4 separate regions of the Homo sapiens genome follow, and regions 1, 3 and 4 are each linked to region 2. Evidence: fine-mapped expression QTL. A gene starts in region 2. Each other region holds a variant in brackets. All regions are shown on one strand. Distances are between the middles of the regions.

Region 1 (8,101 bases), 22 kb before region 2:
CCATCAGCCATCAGCTCTGCCCCACTCTGGATGCCCTGGACTGACTATGTGCAATTCTCCCACACGACTCTTCTTTATGTGCAGAAAATGCCAAGTCTCACTGGAGCGAGTGGGAACCCACAGCTCCCGAGGACAGACTGGAGATGACCTGAACCCACTAATCAACCACGAAGATTGCTTCTTTGTGACTTTTGGGCAAAACTCACGAGGGCAGCTGCAGGACACAGCCCGGGTTGCTTTGACAGTCACTGAATCCACTTCTCCCGGTGGGTGGGGGCATGGCTATGGAGCCATTCGGGCTCCTGCCCTGGAGGGTGACTCTGGGGCCCATCCTCCCGAGTGAGAAGCAGGTGGGTGTGGGGAGCTGGGCTGGAAAAGGTGGGGTCTGGGGCTGTGGGCCCTGTCCCTGAGAGTCCCCAGCCCTGAGTGATGCCACCTCTCTGGGCGGTCACTAGCCTGGGCCCAGAGATGAGAGACTGATGTGACACACACTCACCCCATGGGAGGGAGGCTGCAGGTTTAAGGGCCCTCCTCAGGACCCTGTCAAGTTCCCAGAATCCCTCCCAGAAATACTTTTATTAAAATAAACTGAGCAAGGCCAGGCGGCTCAAAATGATCCACACAAGGGGGTTCAAAGATAATCCAACGATGGAGACAGGAGACAGGGTGGGAGGGAAGCGGGTCACGAATGCACAGGAAACAGCGGGACTGTGGGAGGACACCCTGCAGCCTCGGGCCCTCCAGCTGGGCTGACAGGCAGGCTCTGGGCTTTGGAGGCAGTGAGGGTCAATTCGGGGCTCCATGGGGCGTCCTGTCCCTGTGTGCCTTCTGCGTGTGCTTGCAGAACAGACCATAGAGCACCCTCAGTGTGCTCTTGGCATCCTTGTTCACGATATCTGCGGGCCAAAGGAGGGCAGGGCAGCCAGTCAGGCCTGGGTGGCAGTGACCGACTGTCCCGATGTGGTCAAGGTTTCCTGGCATTCAGGATTTCAGTGCTAATCCCAGGAGAATCCCTGGAAGCCAGGACAGCTGGTCACTCCAGGCCTGGGTCCCGCGCCTGCTGCGTGACTGCCTCCTCCTCCTGGCCAGTCCTCCTCTGAATGCTCCTGTGGTGCCCCCAACACAGCAACTCCTCAAGGTCTGGCTTCTCTGGACAACCTGTCCCCAGAGACCTTGGTCTCCCCCTCCCCAGAACCTCTTCCCCTGGGGCTGCAGTGCCCCCTCCCAAGAAACCTTGGCAAGCGCCCATTCTCCACCCCTGCCAGGCAAGAGGACTCTGCCAATGCGTGCTCATCCCCCAATGCCCTGCACCCTGTTCTGTGGCTCTCGCACAAGGCTGCCACCCAGGGCTGGCCACCGTGTGGGCATCTGCCTTGCACTCACCTTCAGGGCTGACAGGGCAGCTGAGCAGGCCCTCGTCCTTCAGCAGCTCCAGCGCCAGGGTGACGTTGTGCAGCTATGATGACAAGGCCCTATCAGATGTGGGCACAAGCAGCAGCCCCAGGCCAGGCCTTGGGTCCCAAGTGCCAAGCCCTTCCTGTTGTCTGTGATGTCCATCATGAGCCTAAACTCCCATCCAAGGTGGGCATCCCTGACCACGACCACAATCCGTGGTCATCCAGCATCTCCCTACAGCTCACTCTGTCACACAAGCAATCCATGTCTCATTCCTCAGCCACTCACAGGCCCCACTCTGAGCAGGTGCTATACCACACTGGGCACACGCTTGCGTCCAGGGGCCACTGCCCGTGAAAAAGGCAATCGCCAAGGAGGATACCCAATAGGGATCAGGGAAGGCTTCCTGGTGGAGGTGAAGCCTGGTGGTGAGTCCCGCCAGGCAGGGAGAACTACCCAGGGAAAGGAGCAAGGGCCTGGGGTGGCAGAGCACCTTTGAGAACAGCTGTTTCCCAGGGCAAAGCACAGTGAGGAAATCAAGGCTCAGAGGAGCCAAGGGGCTCACTGGAGCTCACGAGACAGAAAGCGCTCAAACCAGGTCTGTCCGCTCCAATGCTCATGCAAAGCAGGCTAGAGACTGGAGCGGTCCCCACCCAGGTGGCTGTCCTTTCCGCCACCCCTTGCCTGGGGTGCAGTCTCAGAGATGGCTCCCTTTAGGGTGGAGAGCGCCCGGGCATCAGTCAAGTCCCCCAGTGATTCAGAGCTCAGCTTAGTCCCTGCCCAGGGCCTCCCCTTGCTCCCCTGCAAAGTGGGCTCACCACAGTTCCCCTGTGCCTTGCTACAGGATATGGTGAGAGCCCAGGAGCCTGCCGGCCCTCCCACAGTAGGTCCCCTCCCTTTCCATTCTAGCTTCTCCCTTGGGCCTCGTCTACAAGCAGAGTAGGTCCCAGCCCTTTGCCTTAGGGCAGCAGCCTGGTGTGGGTGAAGAGGGATGAACTCCTGGTTCACTGTGACCTCAAACAGGTCCTCCCTTCAATGTCTTAGCCACCCGTAGATCCACTAGACGGGGTGGACATCCCAGCCCGGGGGTCAGCTGTGCTGGTCCCGTTCCCTCCCTATCTGCCTGGCCACACCAGCCCCACCAGGACAGGGCAGTTCCCATGGCAACCCGCCAGGGGCCAAGAGGCCAGGTTGGCCGAGCGGTGGATGAGCAAGGCCAGGCAAGACTCATCCAGAAACGCCAGCCTGGCCCAGGCCACCTCCAGCCACCTGCTGGATGGCCCGAGCAAGAGGACTCTTGGGATCTAGCTTGGATGTCTGTGTACTGCCACCCCCATCCCTGCCACTAAGTGTCTGACCTCGGACAAGTCACACATCCTGGCTGGGCCTCAGGTGCCTCATCTGTGTCACGGGGATGATACACCTGTCTGCCTTCCTCTCCAAGGCTGCCATGTGCGTCCAATGTGATGACGGACACAGAATTGAAGCCACAAAGCAAGATTTGAAGGTGAGGATGATGAAGGCATAGGAGCTGGAAGTGGGTGAGCAGAGTCCTTCTCCACGTGGGGACATGAAGATGGAGGGCGGGTCCCAGATGGAAAGGAGTGTATGGGCAGGGTGCCCAGCAGCAGCAGCAGGGCCGCTCCTCTGTAGTCAGCCAACAAGAAGAAACAGGCTAGGCACGGTGGCTCATTCCTGTAATCCCAGCACTTTGAGAGGCCAAAGTGGGCAGATCACCTGAGGTCAGGAGTTCGAGACCAGCCTGGCCAACATGGTGAAACCCTGTCTCTACTAAAAATACAAAAATTAGCTGGGTGTGGTGGCACGTGCCTGTAATCCCAGCTACTTGGGAGGCTGAGGCAGGAGAATTGCTTGAACCCAGGAGGCGGAGGTTGCAGTGAGCCAAGATTGCACCACTGCACTCCATCCTGGGTGACAAGAGCGAAACAAAGGCTATCACACGGCACCAATGTTGCAGCATGCTGCAGGGGCCAATGCGGGGTGAAACTCTGAGACTGTCCAGACCAAGATGGATGGGAAGCTC[C/T]GAGTGGACAGACCAGAGCATCACCGGAAGTTCCCATCACTGTGTCCCCAGTTCTTCCTCCTAGACTGGAATATTCTGGGAAACTAGGGTTGCAATTGTTGCTATTGTTCGCATTCTCATCACGAATATTATTTGCAGTTACATGGAGAGTAAATGTCGGAGTGAGAACAAGACCCTGAGGAACCTGAGGTTCCAGACTCCGCACTGTGCTCTCCTGCCTCAAAGCTCCGCCTTTGATACATTCAGCGAGCCAGCATCTCCCAAACTGTGATCTAAGATGGACAGGAAAGGGGATATCTGTGGCCAAACGTTTTTAGAAATTGTTGGATTAAATAAAATACTATGGAAGTCCTTCACTGCAGGACTTATTAGAGCCTTGAATGTGTTGGTGGGCCGCATGAACCTTCAAGACTAGACATGTTTCCCCAAGTTATTTATTCATAGAACCCATTTGTCACAGAACACCTCCTGGGACCAATGTTTTGGAAACACTTCGTTCATTCACTTATTTAAAAAAATACTTGTCATCTACTATGTGCTAGCCATACAACCAGTGCTCAAAACAGACCAGACCTCCTGCCCTCATAGAGCTTATGCTTTGGGAATTGCTATCGACACTGAAAATTATGACATCTGCTTCTGTTTGTCACACTCTTCCTCAATGACACTCAATCTGAACAAAAGATCATCCCCCAGTAAGAGCTGACCCTGGCTCCAGAGCTATCTCATGATGCTCTGTCCAGAGATTTTTCTTCCGCGTGTGGCTTGAGATGAAGATAAAACTACCACCTTCCACGGAGCTGAGAGAAGGTTACAACCCGGGAGGATACGTGCAAATCCTCCTGGGGAAAGTAATTTAACGTGGAAGGACGCCAAGGATTCCTGGCTCCGGGGATTTTATTTCTGGGAGCGAATGATCCTCTCTCCCTCCATCCTTAACTTCCGTGCCCACAATGAATAACTATCTCACATAAACACCATCAGCAAAGAGGGTCTGATAATGAGAAATCCAATTTCAAGAGGCTACTCTGCCAAGATAACAATTCCGCAGAGGCCCACCTTCAGCAAGGGCTGGTGTTCCCGCCCTCCTCAGCTGACGACCTCTTCAGCATTTTGATTACACATTCCTGCAGCAGAGATTGCCCACAATATGCTGTAAAAATTCATTCTTGGAGTCTGAGCTAAGAGGCTGCTGCTTTTCCCCCACATCTAATCTGACTCATATTCAGAAGTAAGTTCTAAAATCAGTGGATTCAGCAAAGCGGCTGCACACAGCAACATGGAAGTCTGCACGTTTGTTCCCGTCTTGTAACTGGGGCTTGGATGGTGCAACAGATTGAGCAGAGGCCCTGCAGCCCAGGGGCACCCCAGAGTGGCTCTGAGCTGGGTTCCGAGCCCCAGGCCCTCAGCCCGCAGGTGGTCCTGCCTGCCCCCTTCCTCCGCCTTCTCTCCTCACCGCTCACATTTCAGTGCCTTGCCTTCCCGAGGCAGGCTCTGACCCCAGTCTCAGCCTTGGCTTCAACCCCACTGAGCCCTGCCACCCCTCCATCTCCCAGAGACTCACATTGGCTCCACAGGAGGGAAACAGGGAGGACCCTAACTCACTGTGTGCTCTGGGCCAGACTTCTGTGCCTCTCTCAACTGTTTCCTCTGTGGAAGTGGGGATGGGAAGAGTTCCTAACTCCAAGACCCAACATGAGGATTTGCTAGCACATTCGTCCACACTGCCCGTGGGAGATCCCACCATCGGCCCAATTCTGCACCCACACACTTTGCAGGGCTGTCCCATGTCACTGTCAAGGCCACAGGGCCTGCTTCGATGGAAGTGGCAGCCTGCCCATTCTGAGCCAGGGCCTCATGCCTTCTGCCTGGTCTCTCATGTGTCTGCCATTGCCAGGAGGAAAGCGTGCCCGGGCCAGCTGCTGGTCCCAGAAGGAACATGGCAGGCTGTGGCACAGAGCCGAGCCACCCAGCCACGACAGCCTGATCCCTATCCAGTCCTCGGAGGAGTGACAAAGCCTAGCTGAGCCTCTAGCAGCTAAACTCAGCCGACCTGCCGGTCTGTGGGAAGAAATGAGCATGGTTTTCAGCCCCTAGGTTTTCGGGTGGTTTGTTAAGCAGCACGTTTGTGGCAATGGCTGGCTGATGCAGCTCCTCCGAATGGAAGAACCTAGGAAGCAGCAGGCACCGTGCCTGCCACAACCACCAGGACCGTAGACACTGACTGCCCCGGCCTCGTTGCTCTGACCCAACATCCCAGCTCTTGGGAACCAAGTCCAGAGCACCTGGCCTCCAGGGAAGGTGGAGGCCACACCCACTCAAGATGCATCCCCGTGGGGGCGAGGGACATGGCAGGCTGCGGGCGGCAGGCTGTGCTGGTGTGAGGCTGCCATTGAGCAGCTGGGTGGTACTGGGTAAGCCTCTCGGGCCCTGGGCTCCCCTCTGTAAAATGGAGATGCAGCCCTGCCCCGCTCTCACAGGGGCAAGGAGGGAGGGTGAGTGGGGAGAGGGCCAGGAGAGGCAAAGTGCAGGGAGCTAACCCCAAGGGAGTGTGGACTGTGGTACAGGGCCCCACAGAGCGCCGAGGGACTGCAGAGGAGCTGAGAAGGTGGGCAGAGCTGGCCGCCCGCCCAGGGAAGCAGGTGGGAAGCAAAGCCAGGGTAGGCTGGGCTGAGAGCACAGCCTGCGTGGATGTGAGGGAATGGGGGAGGACCAGGCCCTGGAGAGCTGGAAGGGGGCCAGAGGTCATGTGGCTGTGGCTGTGGCTGTGGCTGGGAGTCGGCAGGAAGGGAGGAGGGGACGTGGTCGGGGAGGCAGATGGGGCTTGGCAGTTGGGTGCTCCACTTGAAGCAGGGGAGAGGCACAAGGGTGGGTGTCCAGGAAGGTTAAGGGGAGCGGCCTAGAAGAAGGGCCTAGGTGGAGGGGGAGTCTGGTAGGGGTCCAGGGGGGACCTCACCTGCTACTGGGCCCCAGATAGGCCAAGAGGCCTGATCCAGGGCCAAGGACGCCCTGAGCATGTGAAAGGGATGGAAGCCTTTGTCTCTCCCAGAAACAGCCCCAGAGGCTGGCCCTGGGACGGGGCATGTGGCCCTGCCTCCTGCTTCACCTCTTTAGAAAAAGCTACTGCTGCAGAGAGATAAAGAGGTCCTCCTGCCCCAGGCCACGGGAACCCTGGCATGGATGGAGATAAGCTGGCTGCCCGGGATCCTGGGCACGCCACCAGCCACCAACACTCCAGCCTGTCCTTTGGGATGCACGCCTCCAATGTCACCTCCTGTGAGAGGCAAGCCTGGGGATACTAGGGACCACATGTCCCTCAATGCTTTCTCCTCGATGGTTCTCCAAACTCTTTCTTACTACCTGTGTGGCCTGAGTAGGGGGCAGGGATTGTCAGCCCATTTTCAGAGACAGAAAACCTGAGGTCCAGGCAGGCAGGGAGCTGGTGGCGAAGAGCACAAGACTCAGGCCTCTTGCCTGGCAGTGACCCGGGGTAAGCCTTGGCTGCCCGTGGACCTCTCTTTCCTTATTTGGAAAGTAGTAAAATCCCTTCTCATGGGCCAGGCCTACCTGGTAGGAAGGGTGCTCCTGGGAAGGGAACAGCTTGTGGCAAAGCCCAGAGATGGGAGAGCCCAGGGAGCTGGAGGAAGTGGTGGCACACACCACAGGGGCCTGGCGGGGGCGGAGGCAGGACTAGCCAGCGGGCACTGAAGGCTGTACCTGGGGAAGAGGCGGTGGGAGCTGCATCTTTGCAGGCTCACCTGCCCTCTCACCCCACCTCCATCACTCTCTTCATCCCTCTTCCCCAGGTCAAGCCACAGCCCTCATGCCTGGAAGCAGGCAGCCAGCTCCCAGCCAGTCCACCAGCCTCTAGGGTCCACGTGGGAACTGCTGATCCCCCCAGGTCAGGCCCCACCCTTCCAGCCCCTCTAGCCAGAGTGAAGCACCTACACCTCCCTGACCCATTCCTGTTCTTGCCACATTCTGAGCCTTTGCTGATGCTATTCCCTCCCCTCTGCAAGCCCTTCCTTGATAACTCTGCAAACCAATCCCTGATCAACTTCCCGGCTCCCCTCTGATGCAATGCCCTTCCTGACTCCTTGAGATTATTCTAAGCCCTCATTCTTCCAGGCCCCTCCTCTGACCCAGGCATCTGAACCAACACGTTTCACTGTGGCCCTGCAAGACCACACGTCACTAGGAGAACAGTGGGCACAGACTGAGAGCTCCCTGAAAGCAAGAGCTATGTTGGATCAACTTAACATCCCATGCAGTTCAGGGCCTGGCACTAAACAGGCCCTCAGGGAATGGGGGAACAGGCGTGTGGGTAGGGGATGGGTGGATGAGCAGGTGGGTGGATGGGCAGGCAAGTGTATGGGTAAATTGGGTGGATCAATAAACAGAACAGGAAGATGGATTGAAGGACAAACAGATGGATGCATGACAGGACAAGCAGGTGAATGGACCGGTAGGCAAGTGGATGGATGAATGAATGGATGGACAGACAGACATATAGATAAACTTCCTATGGGTGGGTAGACAGGCAGGCAGGTAGGTGGGTGGATGGATGGATGGATGGACTGGGTAGATGAATAAACAGACAGGAAGATAGGTGCATGGACAGGCAGGTAGGTGGATGGACAGGTAGGCAGTTAGGTGGATGGA
Region 2 (8,101 bases):
ACAAAATGCATCATCTCTCATGTGACCCCAATAAAGGCTTTTCCTAGGTATTCTGAAAACCTTCAAGTACTACCCAGACCCATGTCTTCTGATGAAAGGGAAGGCAACAGCGTCATGGGCTGTTGTGCCCAGCACAGGGCAGGCTCTCAGCAAACACTTGGGCGGGTGAGCAGGCGAATGAATGAATGAAGAAAGGAAGGAATGAAGGAATGAGTGAATGGATATGGTGCTGCTCCTTCCTGGAGCAGACTTCTTGCCGCTTGAATCATCCAATGTCCCAGCTCTGCTTGCCAGAACTTTTAGTAATTTAAATCAGTTGTAAAACAAAAAATTAATGGGTTTTTTTGTTTGTTTTGTTTGGTAGTAACTAAGTCCTACTATTCTAACTCAGCAACTTTCCTCAGGACACTTTCTAATCTTCAATGTTTTAAACACAGAATACCAGATGGTGACAAAGACAGCCAGGTGACTCTGGACCAAGCTTGTCCCTTCTGGGGTCTCATCTGCCGTGCCAGGGACCCTGTTGGCACTGGAGTTCTCGCTCCATAACACCTACTTAAAAGGCGGCATTCAGGGCTGGGTGCAGTGGCTCACGCCTGTAATCCCAGCACTTTTGGGAGGCCGAGGCGGGTGGATCACTTGAGGTCAGGAGTTTGAGGCCGAGCTGGCCAACATGGTGAAACCCCGTCACTACTAAAAATACAAAAATTAGCCAGGTGTGGTGGCAGGTGCCTATAAGCCCAGCTACTTGGGAGGCTGAGGCAGGAGAATCTCTTAAACCTGGGAGGCAGAGGCTGCAGTGAGCCGAGATCCTGGCACTGCACTCCAGCCTGGGTGACACAGTGAGATTTTTGTCTCAAGAAAAAAATAAATAAATAAACATTAAAAGGCGGTATTCACAGGAGCTGGAGAAAGCCGCATTCTGCTCCCTTCCCTTAAATTATTTCACACATTTTCTTTGTCAGCACATTTATGTTTTTGTGGTTACATAAATTCCAATGAGTTCACCTAAAGCCCTTCCCCACTGGGACATCTCGCTGCTTCCTTGCAAGCTGTTGTTCATTTGTTTCTTTCAGAGAACACAGAGAGGGTGACAGCTCTGGGTACCTGCCCATGTCCTTCTTTTGAGCCATCTCCTAGAAGGGAGGTTGCAGGAACTGTGGCCGCCAACCCCCCAAAGGGCTCATGACACAGAGCTTTACTGAAAGGGCGACCTATAGTCGTTGAATTGCTCCATCCTATGCTCACCCCACTTTTGAAAGGGACCCACACGTGTGAGGGGAGCACGTCAGGAGCCCCACACCCTGCAAAGTATCACTCCATGGTGGGCATCGCTGCGTGGTCCGTGTGGAACCTCAGTTCTGGGACCACCCTCCTTGGGCTCAGAACCCAGGTCCACCACTTGCTAAGAGTTTCCTGTTACTGTGGCACGTCACCCCTTGTGCCTCAGTTTCCTCATCTGTATAAAGCAGGCACTGATGCCCGCCCTTGAGAATAAATGAGTTGCTATTGGTAAGAGGTGCTGGTGCAGTAGGGGCACTCAGAAGGCTCACAGGATGAGAGCAATCAGTATTCACCATCGTAATCCACACCGTCTCTCATCTGGAGAGAAGAGGTTCTAGCTCTGTAGAAGGTCCCAGGAGGAGGAGTTAGGTCAAGCATAAAGCAGAAGGTGGAGGCAGGGGTGAGCAGAATTGGGCGCTCAGCTGACAGCTGGGAAGGTGCTGCAAGTCCCAGGCATGGCCAGGCTCACTCTTGCCACACAGACCTTCACCCTCCACCCTCAGACCTGCGTGGGCACACACCTTTTGAGAGCTCCTCCTCCGCTGGGGGCTCCACCCCCTTGGGGAGCTGCAGCAGGTCGTACAAGAACTCCGGCTCCATCGCCTCCCAAGCCTGCACAGAGGAGGCAGGAGAGGGCGTCACGGTCTGAGAAGCCCCAAACTCACTGAGCCCCTCATTTTCTCTAGACCTGGAGGCACAGAAGGAGGGTAGAAGCCAGGTTCTGGGGACACGTCAGCATGCCAGCCTAGGCAGGGGGTACGGGCCCTGTGAGAAAGAGCCCTTGAGCCAACCCTTGCGGGGTGACGGGTTAGAAAAAGGCACAGAAGCTGAGGGCGGGCACAGCCAAGCAAAGGCTTGGCGGAGGAAGTGGTCCTTCCTCAGGCAGGTGCAGAGCGGCCGCCCACCGTGCTCCTGCAGCCCCCAGCCCCCTACCCAGGGACCCCCCACCCTATCCCAGACAGGACAAAGTAGGTACAGCTCACTCCTCAGAGCTTGTCAGGTTGAGCTCAAGGGAAACCTCCCCGGTCGGCCTGTGTGGGGCTGGCTGAGGTGGATACGTGGAATGGTGACATCTCCCATCCCATAAACCGGAAGGGCCAGGGTTGACAGAGGCACTGTTCATCTTCCTCCTCCTCATTACAGGCAGAAGGCTGGGCTCACCACATGCCCGGGACAGGGGCAGACCCAGAGGCCAGCCCAGCCCTCCTTCCTGTTCCCCTGGCCCACTTCCTCTCCTGTGAAGGCTTCGCTGGCTCGGCTGGCGCCTTCTGGCCTCCCTCTTCCTCCCTTTTCAGCCCCTGGGTCTTCTCAGTGTTTTCAAACTCAATCAGACATTGAGGTAGGGGAGTCACATGGCAGAAGTTGGTGGCCAGAGCAGGGAGCCCCCTGAGCTGTGGGAGACGGAGGCATTCACTCGACTGGAGCCACCCATGTCACACCAGCAGCCAGCCTGGGGCGGGGGATGCCAGACTCCATCCTGCCCTGTAGCATGGAGGTGGTGGGGACACAACTGACTCCCAGCCCCTTAATATCCAAGCTGAGGGCCATGGCCAGAGAAAACGAAAGAGCCTGGCCTGGGCGTCAGGAAGCCTGGGTCCCAGGCCAGCTCCTCCTCACTCAGGCTGTGTGACGTTGGGCAAACCCCCTGCCCTCTCTGGTCCTGATGCATGGTTACAAGGAGGGCCTGGACTCGATGCTGCCCAAAGGGATCAGCAGCCTGGGCAAGCCCCTTCCTGGCCCCAGGGCCTCAGTTTCTTCACCTGGAGACGGAGGGGTTGGCTGAAGTTCAGAGGCGGCAACTCCTCAGTAGAACAGGGAGGGAGGACGCCGAGCAGCCTCTGAGCAGGGGCAGCCGGAGGGGCCGTGGGGACTCAAGGTCCCACTTTACCGACTCCCTTCCCCGGGTGGCCTGGGCTGGGACTGCACTCTGGGATCCTTCCCAGGTGGTGTCTGGGCCCCTCCCTCCGTGACCCCCAACACTCAAGTATGGTGGCCCCGATGCCAGAACTCACCCAACCGCTTTCCACGCAGGAAAACAAAGGCCTACTGAGTGCAAAGGGTGGTCCCTGGATTCCGAATGGAAGCAAGTTCCGGGTTCTTCTGGGGTCTTCGGGGACCAGGCCGGGAGGCAGGAGCCCCGCTGCTCACTTCCTCCAGGCCCGCTCAGCCGGCAGGAGCTTCCTCCTCTCTGCGGCAGGGCCCGAGGGGGGTGGATGCCGTGAAAGTGAAGCTGCCACAAACCTCCAGAAAGCTCTGCCCGGAGCCCCAGCGCCCGCCGTGCCGCCTGGGCCCCCGGGGTTCTGCAGGCCACTTAAACTCAATGCTTTCATTTCTCCCCCTCTCCCCGCCTTCCCCAAACCATGCCAGTTTCCCCGCAGGCTGTTCACCTCCAAAATGGCAGCTACATAGGCCAGAGCCTGGGGTCGACCCCCGCAACCCACCACCAGCACCCTGTCAGCCTGGCCTCCACCCTCCATCCCGCACCGCCGTCCTCCCACCTCCACACCCCGCCCCGGGCCAGGCCCCTTCCTCTCCCGGGACCACGCAGGAGACTCCTACCTGGACTCTCGGCTGCAGACTTCCCCACGCCCCCTGCCCGCCCCTGAGCTGAGGCTCCCACAAGCCCTCGGAGGAGTGAGTCACTTCCTGACCCCACTCACTCAAACCCACCAACGGCACCCAATAGCTCTTAAAATAAAATCCAGGCTGTGCGTGGTCTGTCTCTCTCAATCGCGGTTACATACCCGTGTCTAGAACAATGCTTGGCACAAAGTGGGCTCAGTGAATAAATATTGGTGGTGGTTGTTGCCAAGGGGATCGGGAAGGCTTTCCAGAGGAGAATGGGGCCTTGACGGCTGCATAGGAGTTTGCAGTGGAAGAAGAAGGGGTGAGAACGTGGCAGGTGGAGAAAACAGCGTATGCAAAGGCATAGCAGGGTTCGAGAAGGAGAGATCTCAGCACAGTAGATAGAGAAACACTTCAGACCCGAGCTGGTCTCTCAAGCTGGAATCTTCACCATCCGGGCTGAAATGGTGAGTTTCCCTAGCAACAGGTGACTGGGAAGCTATCTACCCTTTCTGACAGGTTAGGCAGAAAGTGGCTAAATCAGGTGGGATGCAGGTGTAAGGAGTGTGTGAGAGCAGGAAAGTAGGGTCGTTTACAAGAAGTTAATAAAAAATGACAAAACTTAGTACTGGTATTGTTGCTAATATTTATGGAGTCATTGGTGATGAAACAAACATAATTTTAAGGGCTTTCATTTTACTGGAAACTTCCTTGTGAGGTAGGTACAATCATCACCCCCATATTACAGAGGAAGACACTGAGGCACATGAGTCAGTCCCTGCCATTCTGAAGTGCCCGTGCTAGACTGGGGCTTGTAACAGGTGGGGAGAGAAGCCACCGTGCAGGACCTATTTTGCTGGGGCGTGTGTAGCAGGCTCAGCCCAGCTCTGGACACAGTGGTTCTGGTGGTGGCTTCTGACTCTGGATCACAGCCACATAGATGTAGCAGCAGTCACAGTCCCAGCAGCAAAGAGACGGTATATTCCCATGTGCTAACTGAAGACTGTTTAATAAAGGGACAGCTGGGGCAGGGTTAAAGGAACCCAGAAGAGACAGTGCTACACCCCAGGCTAGCAACATGGGGAGCTGTTACTTCTTCAAAACCTAGAGGGTGAAGGAGGGAGTGGGTGGCAGAGCCCAGGAACAGAATCACTGAAGCTCTAAGAGGGGCCTCGGGATAGGAGCTGTGGCCTTTGGTAGAGGGACACAGCCAGCTCATGGTGAACCAGCAGAAGGGCACAGCTGGAGGAATCAATGACCAAGCCTCACTCTCCTCCCTCCTGCCAGGGCCTCCCCTGCCCACATCCAGCCAGAAGCCAGAGAAAAGAAGTCCCCTGCTGCGGCCCATAGATGTGAGGAGAGAAAATGGTGGGGAGTGGATCTGCAGAGGTGAACCTAAAGCATTCAACCCAGAAAGCATGCTTCTAGGGCCAGCCTGACTCGGCAGCTTCCTTCAGGAGCCAGCTCTGCAGTATTCTTCCAAGAGTCCTTGCTGGAGGCGCTGCCTCCAGCCTTCCAACAGCTTGAGAATCACACAGCTTCCTATGTTAGATTCCTTTCTCCTCCAAACAACTGAAGAGACTCTAATCATCGGCAACTGAATCCCAATTAACTTCGGATTTGTTACCAGAAACAATTGCAGGCAACACGACCTCCAGGATGGGAACTGGGATTGGTTACTTGTTCTGGTTGATTTAAAGGCAGTGGGGACCTAGTAACTGTTAGAGAATGGAGTTCTAATAGATCGTAGCCTGTGATGGCAAAATAATTACCTGTCATCACTCAGAACGAAGTACCTATTAAATTGTGGCTTTGGCAGAGTTGTGGCTTCCATACGCAATACGAGCACAGGTTATCTAAGGACTGTGGGGTGAGCTTGTTATCATCACACCAAAGAGTTTAAAGCAAGAAAAGGACAGTCCCAGGGCTTTACATTCTCAGCTCAAGGTATGTGCAGAATACAGGGAGTTCTCTGATAGCCCTCAAAGCTATCTCTCATCTCTTGGGGCTGCAGGGCTGATGTAAGAATCAGATGCGAAATCTAATCCTGTATGGTGTGGAGTTACAACAGACTAAATCCACAACTCACAAAGCCTCTTGTGTGTAGAGCATTGTTTAGGGGAAGAGAGGGACTCTAAGAATTGGAAGAGTAACATGGAGATAAGTCCAAGCACCCCCAAACCCCAATTAAGAGAAAGGCATGGATAGAAGGGAATTATTCCAGCCTTTTTTTTTTTCAGAGACACGGTGTGAAATATACCTGTGCAAATATGCCAAACACTACTGAACTGTATACTTAAAAATAGTTAAGACAGTACATTTTATGTTACGTGTATTTTTAACCACAACTAAAATTTTTAAAAATTAATAAAAAATAAATAAATTGCAGGGATCACATCACTTTAGGGATATCTCTAAATACTTCAGAATGTTTCTCCTAAAAACATTCTCCTGCATAACACAGTACCATTATGATACCTAAGAAAATTAGCATTGATAGAAGGTTTTCTAATATCTCATCCACATTCAAACTTCACCAAGGCTTCAAAAAATGTCTATTACAGCTGTATTTTTTTTAATCCAAGATCCATTCAGGCATCACACAGCACATGTGATTGCATTTGGTTTTCATGTCTCTTTAGAGCCCTGTAATCTAGAACAATCTTTCACGACACTAACATTTTTTAAACATCCAGGTCAGTTGTCCTGTAGAATCTATCACTTCTGTCATTTCCTGGTCTGCTTCTGTGGACTGATTTTTCTCCCGATTGTGGGTCACAGTTTCCTGCTTCTTTATAATAATGTTTTATTGAATGCTAGACATTAAATTTTTATGTCGTCGCGTGCTGAATTTTGTTGCATTTCTTTAAGAAGTGTTGGAATTTTTCTGGCAGAAATATTCTTTTGATGTCTGTTTTTAATAAGCGTAATCTCTGCAAGCTCTGATCTTTGTCTCCTTAAATCAGTGAGACCTGGCTCTGTCTGGGTCCCCCTCACTACAGCACAGTCCAGGAATTATGTCCAGGCAGAAAGCCAAGACCAGGGTAGGGCTCACCTCACTTGCCACCCTTTTCTTGGGGATCACAGATCTGACTCGCCTCTTAACATTTTACTTTTATATAGTTTCAAACTCACAGAAAAGCTGCAGGAAAGTACAAAGAGTTCCTATGTGTATTAGTCCATTTCCATGCTGCTAAAACAGACATACCCAAGACTGGGTAATTTATAAAGAAAGACAGTTTAATGGACTCACAGTTCCACCATGGCTGGGAAGGCCTCACAGTCATGGTGGAAGGTGAAGGGGGAGCAAAGGCATGTCCAATGTCTGAAGTAACTGTTTCCTGTGTTTTGTGGAGGCTTCTAGTTATTCCTGATGGAAAGGTAACTCCAAAAGTGAAAATTCTTTCCTCATAAATATTGATCGATTACAAAGAAGAGTTACATTTTTTAGTGTACAAATTTGATAAACACTATATTAACTAAGTAATATATATTTTTTAAAAATAGAAACAGTGCACTCTGTCAGACTGGAGTGCAGTGGTGTGATCACGGCTCACTGCGGCTTTGAACTCCTGGGCTTAAGTGATCCTCCTGGGTAACTGGGACCACAGACGTGTGCTCACATGCTAAGTAATCAAAATTAACATCATAAGAAAGTAAAACAATCAACATGACATGTCTCCTGGTAATGATGCGCTGAGAGGAACACATCACTTCTACCGAAAACGCATAACCTGGATCTAATAACGAGGAAAATACTAGATCAATCCAAGCTGCAAGACATTCTGGAACATAACTGGCTTGGATTCTCCAAAGAATCAAGGCTATGAAACATAAGGAAAGACTGAAGGGCCACTCCAGACTACAGGAGGCTGGAGAGATGGGACAACTCATTCAATGCCTTGTCCTGCCTCTTATTTTGGCATAAAGGACATCATTGAGACAATTGGAAAAAAACACAATTAAGGTTTGTAGATTAGACAATGCCATTGTATCAATGTTATTTCCTGATTATGACACATACTGAGATTATGGAAGAGAATGTCTTCACTTTTAGGAAGCTACACTGATGTATTTAGAGGTGAAGAGGATATAATGCATGCAACTTACCCTCAAAGATTCAGAAAATATATATATCACCAGGTAAATGTGTGCGTCTAAAGAAATATATATCATTATTATTATATCGAGAGAGGCAGATAGGCAGGGACAGAAAGAGAGTGAAGAGGATAAAGTAAAAATGTTAACATTC
Region 3 (8,101 bases), 83 kb after region 2:
CCTCCCACCACACCCAGTTAATTTTTTTTTTTTTGGTAGAGACAGGGTTTCACCATGTTGCCCAGGCTGGTCTTGAACTCCTGGGCTCAAGTGATTCCCCCCAACCTTGGCCTCCCAGGGCGCTGGGATTTCAGGTGTGAGCCATGGCGCCCAGCCCCTTCACCTCTCTCTGAGTCTCCACATGGAAGCAAGAATGACACAGCTCCCCAGGGTGTTGTTTCAAGGAGATAATCCTGTGAATGGAGTTTGTGAACTCTCAAGCATTGCTCAAAAATCAAAGAAAAAAATCTTTAGAAAGGTGCATGGGATGGTTCATCTTCTGTGTCAACTTGCCTGGGCTCTGGGGTGCCCAGATAGCCAATGAAACATTGTTTCTGGGTGTGTCTGGAATGGTGTTCAGAGGAGATGAGCATTTGAATTGGTGGATAGAGTAAAGCAGACAGCCCTCCCCAAAGCGGGTGGGCCTCATCTGATCCCATAGAACAAAAAGGTGGAGGAAGTTGGGATTCACCTCTCTCTGCCGGGGACTGCTAGTGCCAGCACCTGGATCTTCTCCCACCCTGTTCCCGGTACTCAGGGCTGCAGACGCAGGCTGGCATCTCTACCACTGGCCCTCCAGCTTTCTAGCTTGCAGATGGCAGGTCGGGGGACTTCTCAGCCTCCGTAGTCAAGTGAGCCAATATCATAATAAACCTCTCTCTAGATATTGACACAATTGGGTCTGTTTCTTTGTAGAAGCCTGATAATTCTCATGCATCCCTTGCTTAAATATCCCCCAAGAACAACATTTTCGTGGCTAAAAGACAGTGACTTTCCTCATCAACGTTCTTCTGTTTGAAATAACAAAGTGGGTATTCAGAGGGAAAAAATAAAACAAATTAAATAATTTAAGTTATTAATAATCAACATCTTTGGGTGGACCCTAAAACTGACATTTGGAATTTCTTTTTTTTTTTTTTCTGTGAGATGGAGTTTTACTCTTGGTGCCCAGGCTGGAGTGCAGTGGCGAGATCTCGGCTCAACGCAACATCTGCCTCTCAGGTTCAAGCAATTCTGCCTCAGCCTCCCGAGTAGGTAGGATTATAGGCACCCACCACCATGCCCGGCAAATTTTTTGTATTTTTAGTAGAGACAGGGTTTCACCATGTTGACCAGGCTGGTCTCGAACTCCTCACCTCAGGTGATCCACCTGCCTTGGCCTCCCAAAGTACTGGGATTACAGGCATGAGCCACTGCGCCCGGTCTCAATGTAGATTTTATTTTATTTTATTTTATATTTTATTTTTTATTTTTTATTTTTTTTTGAGACGGAGCCTCGCTGTCGCCCAGGTTGGAGTGCAGTGGCGCGATCTCGGCTCACTGCAGGCTCCGCCCCCCGGGGTTCATGCCATTCTCCTGCCTCAGCCTTTTGAGTAGCTGGGACTACAGGTGCCCGCCACCTCGCCCGGCTAATTTTTTGTATTTTTAGTAGAGACGGGGTTTCACCGTGTTAGCCAGGATGGTCTCGATCTCCTGACCTCGTGATCCGCCCGCCTCGGCCTCCCAAAGTGCTGGGATTACAGGCGTGAGCCACCGCGCCCAGCCTCAATGTAGATTTTAAAAGAACATAACTTGCAAGCCGTCTTACTTATTCTGAATGAGCCCTCATGAAAACACAGTTGTACAGCCCAGCATTGGGTCCACTGTGGTGGTGAAGGTGGAGAAGCTTTTTAAAAAGCACTTTTAATAGAAAAATGTCTGTTTCTGGCAGACACTGTCACCATCGGCATTTTCAAGAATCCCGGGGTGCCCAAGCTCGCCGTGGGCTATGGAAGCCAAGTGTCTGCCACAGCCGTGTGCCCAAGAGCCCACCCTGGGTTCACCAAGGTCAGGCAGAGCCCACAGCCTCTCCTCTTCAGGGGATTCTCTCTCAAGCCCTACCGTGGTTTCGATCAGAGCAACCAAAACTGCAATCTGTCCTTGGACCCACACAAGCACTGCCTCACGGTGAGCAGGAGCCACGCTGGAGAAGGACAGCCGCTGCCCAAGAAGGCCAGCACCATGGGCCCCTTCCCTCACTGTTCCCTGACTTCTGGGAGCGGGGCAGCCAGGTTCCTCGCCCAGCTGGGATTCACGCCTCCAGACGTGGTGGAAACTGACTGTCCACTCAGCGCAGGCATCGGCATCAGATGGCTCCTGGCCAGGAGTGGCCAGGGTGACCCCTCCTGCTTTTCAGGGTTAAATCTGAATCTAGACCCCACCAGGCTCCAGACGGAGTTCCAACTCCATCTGTAAGGTACTACACTAGCTCACGCCAGCACTCATTCCTAATCCTAAAATCCCCTCCTGCCGAGCTCTGTCCAGCAAAGAGTTCACAAGACTGGTCGTTAAAGCCCCAGCCGAGCAGGGCACATGGGAGGCGCTTGGCACTTCGGGCTGGATCCTCTCTGCCGTCCTCCTCTGCCAACATGTCTGCCCACCTTCTCATGCAGCACCAACATCCCTTTCAGGAGCCCCGGGTTTAGCTCCCTTTGTCCATGAGAGCCCTGAACCCCAAAGCCAAGTCCTCGCCCTAAGAGGAAGATTCCAACCAAGACGGAGCTCCTTACCTTGACCAGTTCCTTGAACTTGGGGTCTTCCTTGGAAGTGGGGTCAATCATCGTGCGCTCCTCGTTCTCCTCTGCCAGGGACAAAAGGAAGTCACGGTCAGCGATTGTGGGGGTGGCAGGGACACGGGGAACCAGGGGGAGGCCAACTCATCTCTGACAAATGGAGAAGCAGAGAACCCAGCACTAGGGGAGGGTGACTGCAAGGAACCGCCTTCTGGAAGGTGGATGGGGCATCCTCCCGCCTTCCCCTCTTCTGGAAAGGGATGAAGTCAAACTCATCATTCTGCCCGGCCTCGCTCCTCCCAGACTCCGCCAGCAGCTGGTCCAAACCATTTCCATTTTTCAGGAGAAATAAGGAGAGAGCAGCATTCACAGGGCATGAGATGCCTCCGCTGGCCGGAATCTGGTATGTGGGAAAGCTTCAGGCACCAGGTAGTTCCCTGTGGCCACTATTTATAAATACATTTGAAGAGTCTGGATGGTTATAATGAAATGGAAAATGTTTGGTACATTCCATGGAAAAGAATCAATATGCAATGTTGTATGTAAAATAACATGCAGAAAAAATATTGAGAAATAAATAGCAAAAAAAAAGGTGGGGGGGGATGATGTGTAACAGCAAAACGTGTTCAGCCTCACCCTCTTTCTATTTCTCTACCTGTTTGCTTTCCCTCCACGTTTCAGCCTGGATCCCACAGACACCAGGCAGCCAGCTGAGCCCGTCATGGAGGACAGTGCCGTGGAGACAGTGGGGAGGCGGGACTGCGGAGGGGGCACCCACCAAGGCTAGGCGTGCTCCACAGCAGAAATGCCCAGCACCACACAGAAGCCAGCGGGCGCCGAGCACCTCTGAACACACACAGGGAAGGGCAAGGGGGTCTCAGGCTGCCACACTGTCCAGCTCCGGGACCTGCACAGAGCATGGGTCGGGTGGGGCCCAGGCTCCACTCACCGGGAGGCTCTATACCACACCTCTCTCTTAAAGAGGAAAAAAGGCACAAGAGGGGCTCCAGGCAGAAGCCAGTTACCCCCAGGACATACAAGTGGAGATGGCCAGGACACAGTTGAGACCAGGGTCCCAGAGCCCAGACAGGCTCCCATGGGGCTGGGGACACTGACCATGTCGGTCAGAATGAAAACAGCTTTGAAGCTGAGCGTAAGTGGCTCCTGCCTACAATCCCAGCACTTTGGGAGGCTGAGGCGGGAGGATTGCTTGAGCCCAGGAGTTCCAGACCAACCTGGGCTACATAGTGAAATCCCTGTCTCTATTTTTAAAAATAAATAAAATAATAAAATAAAATAAAATACAAAAGAAAGAAAGAAAATGGCTTTGAGTGAAACTTTGCTGCTGACACGGATGTGATGCAACTTCCCGGCAGCAGAGTGTAAACTCTGACAACATGGAGAAACTAATTTTGAAGTCATACAGATCTGATGCCTGAAAAGGACACTCCAGGTAATGTGCAGGGAGTTCTCGGGAGTCCTGATGATATCTCTGCAAAGGCCTCCGCAGCCTCCCACTCCTGCTGGGATCAAGGCCGGCGTCCTCCATGTGGCCTCCAAGGCCCCTCTCCCGCCTCATTT[C/T]CTGCCCTCCTGGTGCAATCTGCTCCAGCCCATCCGGCCTTCCCTCACTCCTTGAAGCCTTGCTGCCACCTGCCCTGAGCCTTGGCACCTGCTCCCGCTGTCTGACACTCTCTCCCTGGCCCATGTTTCCTTCACCCTTCAGACCTCAGCTCCCCAGCTGAGATCCTTGAGCCCGAATGCCAAATCTTCCAAGCTCTCCAGCCCCAAAGAGGACTTTGTGTGCCTGTGTGACCCATGTCTGAGACCCCCTCTGGACCACCCATCTCAGGCGGGCAAGGAGCAGGGCCAGGCCGTGAGTCCACACGTGTATGAGAGGGGGTGCAGGACGGAGAGTGAGCAGGTCACTACCCAATCCCAGCCTTCAGAGAGCCCGTTTCTGGAAACATCCCCTTCAACCCACACTAAAAATCTCAGCATTGCCCTATCTAGCATGTCCCCACACCTTGCTCTCGCTGAACTGAGGAGAAGCAAGATTCGGGCCCGCCCAGCTCATGTGGCCCCCACAGGGAACTCGCTGCTCCCTCCTGAAGGCTCTGAGCCCACGTCTGACCCCAGACTGGGCAGCATGCCATGGTGGCTCGGATGTCCCAGGACTGTGTGCTTCTTGAGGGGTCCTGCCTCAGTCGGCGGGACCACTGAGAGGAATGGGGCGTCTGACCCAGAGACTGTGAAAGGTGGAGGACAGAGATGCCGTTTCGAGGCTTACTGTTACCAAACACTTTCTCAGAGGCATCTCCGGTCTTTACCTGTCCCCGTGGGGTAGCTTTCATTCCTGACCCCGCCTAGAGGGGAACAGTGGGCCTGAGAGGGTGGACAGCAGGCCCCAGGCAGGCAGCTATGTGTGGCAGTGTGTCCATGTCTGCAGATCCCGCCGGGATCTCCTGGTCACCTGGTGATGGTGACAGTAGGCCAGAATCAGAGGCTCTGCACAGACCAGGGAGCAGCTGCGTCTCACGGGGCAGGGGCCTGATTCAGAGCAGGCGCTTGCTCCAGATGAGAAACACCTCTGTATCTGGGGGCTCCAGAGCTCACAGTCAGCCCTTGCTGCCTGTCAGCATTCATGACCTGCTAGCCTTGACCGGGGACCCTGGACATGAAACCCCCGCAGGCCACTGCACATCATGGCCCTCAGTCTGCTACGGGCTGCTCACGCGGCCTAGAGGGGAGCAATTCCCAAACCTCAGTGGGCCCCGGAGTCACTGCAGGCATGTTTAAAGCAGAGGGGCCTGGGCCCGCATACTCCCATTTGGTAGGTCTTCGGGTGGCCAGGAACCCTCACTGCCAAGTGCCCTGGGACTTTCTGACATCCTGCATTGAGGAACAGGACTCCAGGGACTCTGGGAGAGAAGAAAAGGGCTGTGAGAGGCTCCTTGTTTTTCCTAAAAGGAAGCTGAGAGCAGACACCAGCCGCCATGCCATCTCTGAGCTGTGTGACTTTAGTGGTCGCTAAACTGTGCCATGCTCCTCTCGGTGGCTCCAAGACTGAGGCAGGACCCCTCGAGGAGCCCACAGTCCCGGGACACCACAGTGGGTACAGCAAGCGCTGCTCCATCCAGGGGGTGCCGGGGGGTCAGACATGGGCTCAGAATCTTCAGCAGGTCTGGGTCCACACAGGCTAGGTGGGCCTGGTTCAGGTTTCTCTCCACTTCAGTCAGAGGAGAAGCAGTGCCCAGAGGCCAGGGTGGTATCTCTGTGCCAGTGTTTTGTGGGAACCGAGCCCCCGCCCTCCCCACCTTGTGCGTCATAGCCAGCTGCAATAAAACGTGCCCAAGGACAGGGACCTGTCCTACTCACCTCTGATGAGGGCCACCATCTTCACTGAGAGGGTCTAGAGCAGGGGGAGGAGCCTAGCTCTGGGGGCAAAATGCCCGGGGTTCAAGACTTTGGCACTTACTAGTGATCTCTGTGATCTTAGATCTGTGCCTCAGCTTCCCCATCTGTACAATGGGGATAATGATACAACCCACCTCACAGGGTCACTGAAGGGACTGAGGAGTAGAAGCATTCACAGTGGACCCCCAATATTCGCTACAATGATGACATTTATGAGCCCAAAGGATATGAAATATACAAAGAGGACTTCAGAAAGAATCAGGTGCTGTGCAAATATTCAGTGAGTGAGTTCAATTATTATTATTTTTTGAGACAAGGTCTCACTCTGTTACCCAGGCTAGAGTGCAGTGGTGTGATCTTGGCTCACTGTAGCCTCAACTTCTTCAGACTCAGGCAATCCTCCCACCTCAGCCTCCTGAGTAGCTGGGACTATAGGCGTGTGCCACCATGCCTGGCTAATTATTTTATTTTATTATTTTATGAGATGGAGTTTCATTCTTGTTGCCCAGGCTGGAGCGCAGTGGTGCAACCTCGGCTCACTGCAACCTCCGCCTCCTGGATTCAAGCGATTCTCCTGACTTAGCCTCCCAGGTAGCGGGGATTTCAGGTGTTTGCCACCACACTCAGCCAATTTTTGTATTTTTTAGTAGAGACAGGGTTTTGCCATGTTGGCCAGGCTGGTTTCGAACTCCTGACGTCAGGTGATCCACCTGCCACAGCCTCCCAAAGTGCCGAGATTACAGGCCTGAGCCACCGAGCCTGGTGGGGCCACTCTCTTCTAAGCGGAGGGAGAGAAAGCCCCGTGGACCCTGGTGCGACCTCAGGCAGCATCACCAGCTCTGGCTTCGGGTCGGTTGGCGGCTGAACTTGCATCGGCGTTTCTTCTCCATAAGCTCTTGCTGGCCTGGCCTCGTCACGGAAACCACAAAAAAGGGATGAACCGGGACTTCCCTTCGAACCAGGGTTTGGAAATACGCAGAATGTTCCATAAATGCCTTCCAGATCAGCTAGATCCCAAAACACACTTTAAGGAAAATGTGTCTTGGCTGTTACCCATTACATCAGGCAGTGAGCGCAGGGGCCTGGGCCACTTGGCAGAGCCCACCCTGCAAGCCCAGGCCGCGGGCAGCTCTGGCTGGCCCAAAGGGAAGAAGCATATTAATTGTGTTTTGCATTTTCTTTTTTTCTTTTTTTTTTTTTTACTTTGAGATGTCTCGCTCTGTCACCCAGGTTGGAGTGCAGTGGTGCGATCTCGGCTCACTGCAACATCCCAATCCCGGGTTCAAGCGATTCTCCTGCCTCAGCCTCCAGAGTAGCTGGAATTACAGGCTAGCCACACTCGGCTAATTTTTGTATTCTTAGGAGAGACGCGGTTTCGCCATGTTGGCCAGGCTGATCTCAAACTCCTGAACTCAAGTGATCCGTCCACTTTGGCCTTCCAAAGTGCTGGGATTACAGGTGTGAGCCACCGTGCCCGCCCTGTTTTCTGTATTTTCTGGTGCTTGGCATCTCGGGGCCTTGCTGACTCTGGAGAGATTGCACCTCCAGGGCAAGCTAATTCCTAGAGATGGTAAACCACCCTCTGTGAGCACACCTTTCATATGAAAACCACTCAGAGCCTGAGCCGCAGAGCCCAGAGTCCCCAGCCACCTCTTTCCTTGGGCTCTCACGGGGCTCCTACACTCCCAGCCAATATCCTCACCCTAATCTCCCCTGGCCCTGGGGACATGCCACGCCACGCCACACCATACCACGCCACGCCACGTGGTGTGGAAGAAGAAGAGTCTTCTTACTGAGAAGACTCAGGACAGCTCCTGCACCGCAAAGCCCAGTGAAACGATTCCAACAAGCCAGGCCTAGGCCTGTTCACCCAGCCTTGCCCATTCCTTCAGAGAAAGCCACAGTAAGGGTGTTGGGGCCAGGCGCAGTGGCTCATATCTGTAGTCCCTGCACTTTGGGAAACCGAGGCAGGAGAACTGCTTGAGCCCAGGAGTTGGAGACCAGTCTGAGCAACATGGCAAGACCCCATCTCTACAAATAAATTAAAAAGTTAGGTGGGCGGGGTGGCACATGCCTGTAGTCCCAGCTACTCAGGA
Region 4 (8,101 bases), 35 kb after region 2:
GGGGAGATCCACCCAGGGTGATCTCTCTGAGCCCTATTATGTAAGTACCAAGGGGCACTGGCTTCTCTCCGGCACAAGCTTAAAACCTGTCACCTGTAATTCCTCAGTGACCAAAGCCAACTTTGATAGAAACTCAATATCATCCACCACTGCCCATGACATGATTTCTTTGTTTTGTTTTGTTTTGTTTTGTTTTGTTTCGTTTTGTTTTGAGATGGAGTCTCGCTCTGTTGCCCAGGCTGGAGTGCAGTGGCGCAATCTCGGCTCACTGCAAGCTCCACCTCCCGGGTTCACGCCATTCTCCTGCCTCAGCCTCCCGAGTAGCTGGGACTAAGGGTGCCCACCACCATGCCCACCTAATTTTTTTGTATTTTTTAGTAGAGACGGGTTTTTGCCATGTTAGCCAGGATGGTCTCGATCTCCTGACCTTGTGATCCACCCACCTCGGCCTTCCAAAGTGCTAGGATTACAGGCGTGAGCCACCGCGCCCAGCCTGCCCATGATATGATTTCTTACCCATTCTGCTCAAATTTACTGAGCAGCTACTATGTGCCAGGCATGCTGCTTGGTGCTAAGGACACAAACACAGAGAGCTCCACCCCTGGCCCCCGCCAAAGGGCCTGTGATGTAATTCTCCATATGCGTGTAGTGGTGGGACGGAGAAGTCAAGAGATAGGGCACTACAGGGAAACACGCAATGCAAGGGAGATTTCATGAGCCATTAATGGGTGTGCGGACCCCCGTTAAGACCATGGAGAGGGAGCATTGGAGCTGGGCCTGAGGGTGGGCCAGTGCAAGGTGAGAGTGAGCCGAGTGGGCACCCAGACACATCTGCAAACCCTTTGGGGTCTTCAGGCTGTGGCTGGATGTGGGTGGGATGGGAAGGAGTAGGAGGGGACGACCCAGGGAGAAACCTGCAGAGGTGGGCAGGGGCCCCTGACTTCATTCTGGGGCACAGAGAGCTACAGACACCTAAACTTGCAATGTGGAGGTGAGGAAGGGACAGGCTGGAGTGGGAAGCTACCAGGCAAATCAAAGGATTCTGTCTTCTTCCTTGCTGGTGGCTCCAGTGCCGAAAATGTGTCTTTCGCAGAATGAATTAACATGGTATCTACCGAGAGATGAAAGCAATCTCAGGCCACACCATTCTCAATGCTACCAGTGACTATACGCTGCCGGCTAAGCCCATGCACAGAGAGAATCCCAGTTTATCCTCACAGTGCCCTGAGAGGTGGGTAACATCTCTGTCCCCACTTGACAGATGGGGAAACTGAGGCTGGGGGGTATAATCTCGCCCTTCGCCAGAAGTCACACAGCTGATAAGTGGGGAAGCTGGATTTGATTCATTCCCTGAACCGGTTCTGTCAGGGTCCCTGGGGGCCACATGTGACGAGGTGGAGGTGGGGGACTCTGATGCTCCAAGTATATCCCTCACCACCCAAGAGTGCTAGGAAGGCTTTGTCCCAGAAGGACCATTAGCACGGTTCCAACAGCCTTTTGCAAAATGCTTCCAAAAATGAATGATCTCATCGTCCAAACCCAGGCCAACATTTTCCAAAAGTGGGTTCCACTAAAATACAATGCGTCTTACCCCAAAATTGATAGATAAATAAATCCCACTATAAACAAACAAGTTTGAAAAATGCTTCCTACCAAGCTCCCTCTTGGAGAAGTACAGTATAGGTCAGCCTATTAAAGGTTCTGACAAGTCTTGCACTAAGAAAGCTGTTTGGGTAAGCTGTCCTAGACAAAGGAGAACTCTCTTGCCTGCACCATGGGTTGAAATGAGCGCTCCTCCGATGTTATGGGAAGGAGGGATGCAGCAGCCTCCTGAATGGGATGCCTGCAGGCACTCGGATAAGTTAATGAGCAGCCAGTGGGCTCCAGTTCCTTTTGACGGGAACAAGCCTCCCTGGCAGATCCCCCAGAAGCTGATCACACCCAGCCCCCAACTCCAGAGCCTCGGAGATTTTTCCATCCACAGATTGACCAGCAGGCTGCCTGGGCTAGTGAGGGCCCATTCTCTGTCTGGAGGGAAACGGGCCAAATCCATGTATGGCACAGCTCAGCCGCACAGGCCTGCGTGTTTACTGGGCAGGCTGTAGATGGTAAATGAGGCCAGCGAGAGCAGCAGGCTGACATGCTTAAAAACATTTCCACATTGAAAAAAGGTCTCGAGTCAGAAAGAAATGGGGGCTGGGTAATTCACTTAACAGAAGCGGAGCGGGCGGGCAGGAAGACACCCAGGGAGCAGCGAGGTTGAGTTAAAAGGCGCTGATTTTATGCACTGTGGTTAGGTTTTTGACTGTAATTACATTTCAATCCATGTGGCAAACATTTCTGAGATTCCAAACATTTTCCCACCTTCTTCCCAGCGGGGCGTTTGTGCTGTCAAAAAGCCGCGAGCCAGGGGAGAGCACATCCAACATCCCACCAATAGCTCACCTTCTTCACCACGCTGAGCTTATCCGGGGCGTGGTCGAACAGCGTGTCGAAGGCATCCCGCTCTGAGGACATGCAAAGAGAGACACGAAGGAGCGTTTATGGAAACCCGTGGTGCTGCCCTAATCCAGGGCCCTGCCAGCTTCTGATCCCTCAGGAGGTTCAGCCTCAACTCCCACACCTGCCTAGAATCCTTCCAATTCCTACCAGAATGAAAGGGCTGACCCTGATGATCAGTCCCGGCCAAACCAAGGCGAGCAAGAGCGCTTGGGAACAACCAGAACAGCGTGGACTAGAGGCTGCAGAGGGTCCCTTCCACCTGCTTTTTACCTTCTCATATGAAACACATAGATGGCATCTGGCATCTGCACCTGCCACGTCCTAGGACTTGAGGCGTCCTGAATTCTCCCTGTTCCCACACTCCTTGTCTACTGGCAAATGTCACCTGTGAATCCAACCACTTCCCCCGCGACGGTGGCCATGTCCTGCTCACGCCTCACTGCCCCTCGCCTGGGAGCAGCTGCAGCCTCCTACTCCACTCCTGGCCCCTGAGCCCTTCTCCCCAGCAGGCAGAGTGAGCCCTTCCAAGTGCAAACAGGATCATTTGTTTCCCCCCTCCACTCCCACCACAACTAAAACCCTCCAACTGCTTCTTATCATGCTTAGAATAAAATCTATCTTCTCTCCTGCGAGCCATGGGACACTCAGATAAAATCCATCCTCTCTCCCACGTGCCATGGGACACTCAGACTCAGCGTTATCCTCCTACATGCACCCTCCCTGACTTCACTCCACCAACCGGCCTCCCAGCTGCTCCTGCTGACACTGGTGCACACTTGCCTCAGAGCCTTTGCTCCTGCTGCCATGGAGGGGGGAGTTCCATAGGGGCATATGGAACAGAGACTTGGACCCCAAGCAGAGGGCTGAGGTCTCCAGGTAGACACAGAGCTGTGGGGCATCACTGCCAGGGCAGAAAAGACAGGGAGGAGGGCATTTGGAAGGGGCCCAGGGCCCCCCAACTTCCATCCTCCAGGTTCCTGGAGGCAGAGCATGTTCAGAGGACCAAGCCCAGCAGAGAGACCCTCTTTTACCAGCCAGGCTGGGGCCCCAACCCAAGGAGCAGCCCTGGGAGCTGCGGAGCCCAGCTTGACAGGGAGAGAGTGGGGTAGGAAGCTCCTCCCACCCGTCTAGTGGGTGGCCTAGGGGAGCCTCCTCAGGGACCGCCCTGGCCTAGGAGAGAGACAAAGAGAGCCCAGAAAAAGAAAGAAGGGATTAGGCCCAGGTAAGCCAGAGACCTACGGAGAGAAGTTGGCCAAGCCTCCTCCCAGAGGAAGCATGCTGACCCTTCCTCCCAGGCTGGGCCCCAGGAGGCAGCTCACACCCCCCTGCCCAGCCCAGCCCAAGTAGCCCCTTCCGTGGCCTTGTGGAGGTGGTGAGAAACAAAGAGGAAAGGAGAGAAGGAAAGTGTATGTGTACGTGTGTGTGCGCGTGTGAGCATGTGTGTGCATTGTGGGCACGTGTTTGCGTGTGTGAGCATGTGTGCGTGTGCGAGCACGTGTGTGCATG[T/C]GTGTGTGTGAGCACCTGTGTGCACGTGAGCACATGTGTGCGTGTGTGAGCACGTGTGTGCGTGTGAGGTTGTGTGTGAACATGTGTGTGTGCTGTGAGCGTGTGTACGTGTGAGCGCGTGTGTGAGCGTGTGTCCATGTGTGAGCATGTGTGCGTGTGAGCACGGGTGTGCGTGTGTGCGGTGTGAGCGTGTGTACACGTGTGAGCACGTGTGTGCATGTGTGAGCACGTGTGAGCGTGTGTGTGCCTGTGTGAGCGCATGTGTGCGTGTGTGAGCATGTGCGTGACTGGGGGAAGGGAGGGAAGTTTTCTTCACCTAAAGACCAACATTGACCAAAATGCCCTGCCTCTGCACACACGCCAGCTTCCTAATGCGGCAGCTGTAAATGATTTTCATAATCATCTAAGACTACACTCAATAAGACAGTCTGCTAAGGGGCAAAACAAAAAAAAAAAGTGAAATTTTTACATCTTTACAAAGCAATACGCAAACTATAAATGCAGCTTAAGAAAAACCCCAGGAGCAGAAGAGTGCTTGACGTCAGCCAGGGTATATTTAGCTGGGCCACCGCTGGGCTGGCAGAGTCAAGCCACTCAAGGAGACATCGGGGCCGCAGAGGCCTCTCCGCCGGCTGCCATGCCCCTGGACCCAGGGGACTGGCATCACGTCACACAGTCCACAAGGCAGGGAGGGGCCAGGGGCTCTGAAAATGGGCACTGGGGACCAGGCACAGGACCCAAGGGCATTTGGAAGGGACCCAGGGCCCCCAACTTCCATCCTCCAGGTTCCTGGGGGCAGAGCATGCTCAGAAGACTGAGCCCAGTGGAGGGACCCTCTGTTACCAGCCAGGCTGGGGCCCCAATACAAGGAGCAGCCCTGGGAGCCGCAGAGCCCAGGTTGACAGGAAGAGGGTCGGGTAGGAAGCTCCTCCCACCTGTCTTGGGGTAACCCAGGGGCCTCCCCAGGGACCACCCTGACCTAGGGGAGAGAGAGAGACAGAGAGAGCATACTGCACCCCTGTGATGTGCTTGGCCTTGGGAACGAAAATAGATCCTATTTTGTTCTAGCTGCCCCACTTCACACCCCATGACTGGGCAAATCCTTCCCTCTCCGACCCCCTTTCTTCCTCCATAAAGGCAGCATTCTCACAGCCCCTGCCTCGCTCTTGGTGTGGAACTAAGTGGGGCAGTGAGTAGAGGCAGGAGCATGGAGCCTGGCAGGAGCATTGTCGGTCCTCAGTCCTTACAGCTCCCGCTCGTCCTGTCCCCCAGAGCCTCCGCAGGCTCTGGGGACATCACAGAGATAAACAAGGAGGGACTCCTCTCTTGGAAGAGGCACAGACTTGGGGGAGGGCCTGGAGAGGGAGTAAACTATGATAGTGCAACCCTGTTAGTGTCAGAAAAGACGAAGCCAGACGGGGGGCCAACCGACCTGACCATATGCCAGGGCTGCCCAAGCTCAATCTGCAGGAATGCTCAGCTTGGTCGCTGTAATGTTTTGATTTGAGTCAACAGTTTTCATTTGTTTTGTTTTCTTTTGTTTTGTTTTGGTCTTTAGGCTTTTTGAGACAGAGTCTCACTCTGTCACCCAGGCTGGAGTGCAGTGGCATGATCTCAGCTCACTGCAACATCTGCCTCCCGGGTTCAAGCAATTCTGCCTCAACCTCCTGAATAGCTGGGACTACAGGCATGCACCACCACACCTGGCTAATTTTTGTATTTTTAGTAGAGACGGGGTTTCGCCATGTTGGTAAGGCTGGTCTTGAACTCCTGACCTCAAGTAATCCACCCGCCTCAGCCTCCCAAAGTGCTGGGACTACAGGTGTGAGCCACGGTACCCGGCGAGAGCGAACAGTTCTTAAATTGGAAAGTTTGTCCAAAAGTTCTTAACTTCTGGCTTCTCTTGAAGAACTGGAGGCTGTGGCAACAGTGAGCCTGCACTCCCACCTGGCAGCAATAAGCTGCCCCTGGGGATGGGGGTGTGGACTCTCCAGCTTGCGCCAGACCCCACCACTCCCCACTGCCACCCAGCCCTGGGGTGAAGGGGCAGATGACATTATCATTGCATAATCTAGACACTCTCCTCTTTTATATTATCAGCCTGGTCCCTGGAGACACCTGAGTCTGGGACCCATGAACCAAGGGCTGGGGGGACCTGAGGAAGGCTTCACAAAGCAGTCCTGGGGTTCAAGCCAGGCTTGCTGGGGCAAGAGGAGGAGGAAAGGCGCTCCACCGAGGGACCAGCAGGCACAAGGAGAGAGAGATGCCAGAAAGCCCAGCGCAGGTTCAAGAGCCGGGTGGACTGTGAGAGGGGTTAACAGGGGCTGTGGCCTGCAACGTGGGAGTTATGGAGGGCACAGTCAGGAGCCACGGGTGATGGGATGGAGCCAGAGGTTTTGGAACAAGCCCTGTTGGCAGAAATGGGAGAGACGTGAAGGGGAATTACTAGGAGTTACAATGAGGGGGAAGAGAGTGAGGAAGGCACATCCCCCTTCTTTCCCCTCTGCCTCAGAAAGAGCCTCCAGCCCAGGGCAGGCCCAGGAGGGGGAAGGGCCGCCCGCGGAGAAGCCGCACCAGCTCACCCATTGCCATGGAGACCAGGCTGCAACCTCCCTGGAACCCCTGAGACTTGTTTCCGTGGAGAGAAGCCTCCTCACCCACCTCATCCAGGACAGTGATGCTGTCAGGAGGCAGCGAGGACCTGTGGAGCCACCTCCCTCCCCGGAATGATGGGGAGTGGGCAGAATGGAGTCCCCATCCCTCCCTGGCTCAGGGTACTCGTGGGGAAACTGAGGCCCAGAAGACCACTCCTGGCAAAGCCCAGCACATTAGCCAAGGAGGGTCTGCCCGGCCTTCCAGAAGCTCCTAAAACATCTGCCCCCAGCTGCGTGCAGACTGTGGCCAGGGCTGGCTGCTTTGGCAGGGGGTGGGGTGCACCCCGAGGAAAGGTCAGCTCCAGCCCACAGAGCACCTCTGGGTCAAGGAGCCATGTGTGAAAGGAGAAAGGCAGGGGCTGTGGGTGCCCCTGAAAGTTTGCTGGCACCAGTGTCTGCCAGACACGTGCAAGCTTCGTTGTGTAAACACTGGCACAGGGAAGAGGAGCCAGGCCATCCCCATGAGCTGAGTGCTGCTTGGTGTGTCACATGAGTACAGAAAGAACTAAGGCAGGGGTGGGGAGGAGAGCCAGTGGAGGCCAGTTTGGGGCAGTGGAGTCAGAGAGGGCCTCCCTGATCAGTGACATTTGAACCAAGAGCTGGCAGAGCTGAAAGAGTGAGCCATGGGGTAATCTAGAGGGAGAGCATTCAGGTGAAGGTTGCTGGAGGAGGGAGCACCCTGGGGTGCTCTCGGGGGCTGAAGGAGGGGAATGGCATGGCAGGGAAGCGAAGACAAGGCGTGCTGCTGCCCCCACAGGGGCGGGTGCCGGGCCAGACACCCTGCTGTGCCTGAGGGTGCCAGGCTGGGTAACCAGGAGACTTCGGAACCTGCGTCAGCAGAAGCAGCAAGGCCGGGGGTGGAACTAATTGCCTGTCACCGACTAATAGCCTGTTTGCATTTTCTCAAGCACAGCACATAAAGCCTACAAAGTAACGAGAACAATTCCATCGGCCTCTTGTACATGGTCTTGCGATTCCACAGTCCTCCCACCCCTGGAGTGGCAGCTGGGTCCACTTTTCACATGTGACACCTGGCTCTTACCTAGGGAGCCACTGCCCCAGCCATCAGACCCTAAAGCTCATTCATGGGGTGGCAGGGGCTCCGGGGCCAGGCTTCTGGGCCCTCGGGCCACAGGGTGCTATACACAGCCTGAGGCCCATGTGCTCCCAACTGAACTGAACAGACTGTCTTTTCCCTAAACCTCCAACAAGGCCCGAACCAAACACAAAAGTGACAGCGCCACAAAAAAAACAAAAAGACTCAAAAATGCTTGAGGGGCCCACTGTCATCTTTTTTTTTTTTTTTTTTTTTTTTTTTTTTTTTTTTTGAGACAGAGTCTTGCTCTGTCACTCAGGCTGGAGTGCAGTGGCGCAATCTCGGCTCACTGCAACCTCCACCTCCTGGGTTCAAGCGATTCTCCTGCATCAGCCTCCCGAGT

Evidence for each region. PIP is the estimated chance that this variant, and not a neighbour inherited with it, causes the effect.
Region 1: its variant is fine-mapped to the expression of PARVG in whole blood (INTERVAL, PIP above 0.99).
Region 3: its variant is fine-mapped to the expression of PARVG in whole blood (TOPMed, PIP above 0.99).
Region 4: its variant is fine-mapped to the expression of PARVG in CD4 T cells (CEDAR, PIP 0.95).

The regions. Positions count from the first base shown.
Region 1 is chr22:44,199,112-44,207,212 of GRCh38, reverse strand. PARVG (parvin gamma) reads right to left here. Exons shown (of 14, transcript NM_022141.7): 13 at 1,384-1,456; 14 at 1-896. The coding sequence ends at 787. Among named protein-coding and RNA genes, the nearest start is that of PARVG, 22 kb to the right of the region's middle. RefSeq lists enhancers at 2,074-2,574, 2,575-3,075, 4,336-5,145, 5,957-6,766. The variant C/T (reference allele first, on the strand shown) is at 3,440.
Region 2 is chr22:44,177,113-44,185,213 of GRCh38, reverse strand. PARVG (parvin gamma) reads right to left here and starts at 4,289. Exons shown (of 14, transcript NM_022141.7): 1 at 4,029-4,289; 2 at 3,297-3,472; 3 at 1,806-1,896. The coding sequence starts at 1,884. RefSeq lists enhancers at 2,709-2,798, 2,112-2,841, 2,842-3,571, 3,572-4,302 and silencers at 3,679-3,808, 4,979-5,028.
Region 3 is chr22:44,094,611-44,102,711 of GRCh38, reverse strand. PARVB (parvin beta) reads right to left here. Exons shown (of 13, transcript NM_013327.5): 3 at 2,589-2,659. Among named protein-coding and RNA genes, the nearest start is that of TRU-TCA2-1, 52 kb to the left of the region's middle. The variant C/T (reference allele first, on the strand shown) is at 4,173.
Region 4 is chr22:44,142,267-44,150,367 of GRCh38, reverse strand. PARVB (parvin beta) reads right to left here. Exons shown (of 13, transcript NM_013327.5): 9 at 2,446-2,507. Among named protein-coding and RNA genes, the nearest start is that of TRU-TCA2-1, 4.3 kb to the left of the region's middle. RefSeq lists enhancers at 1,780-2,409, 3,668-4,297, 4,298-4,927. The variant T/C (reference allele first, on the strand shown) is at 4,009.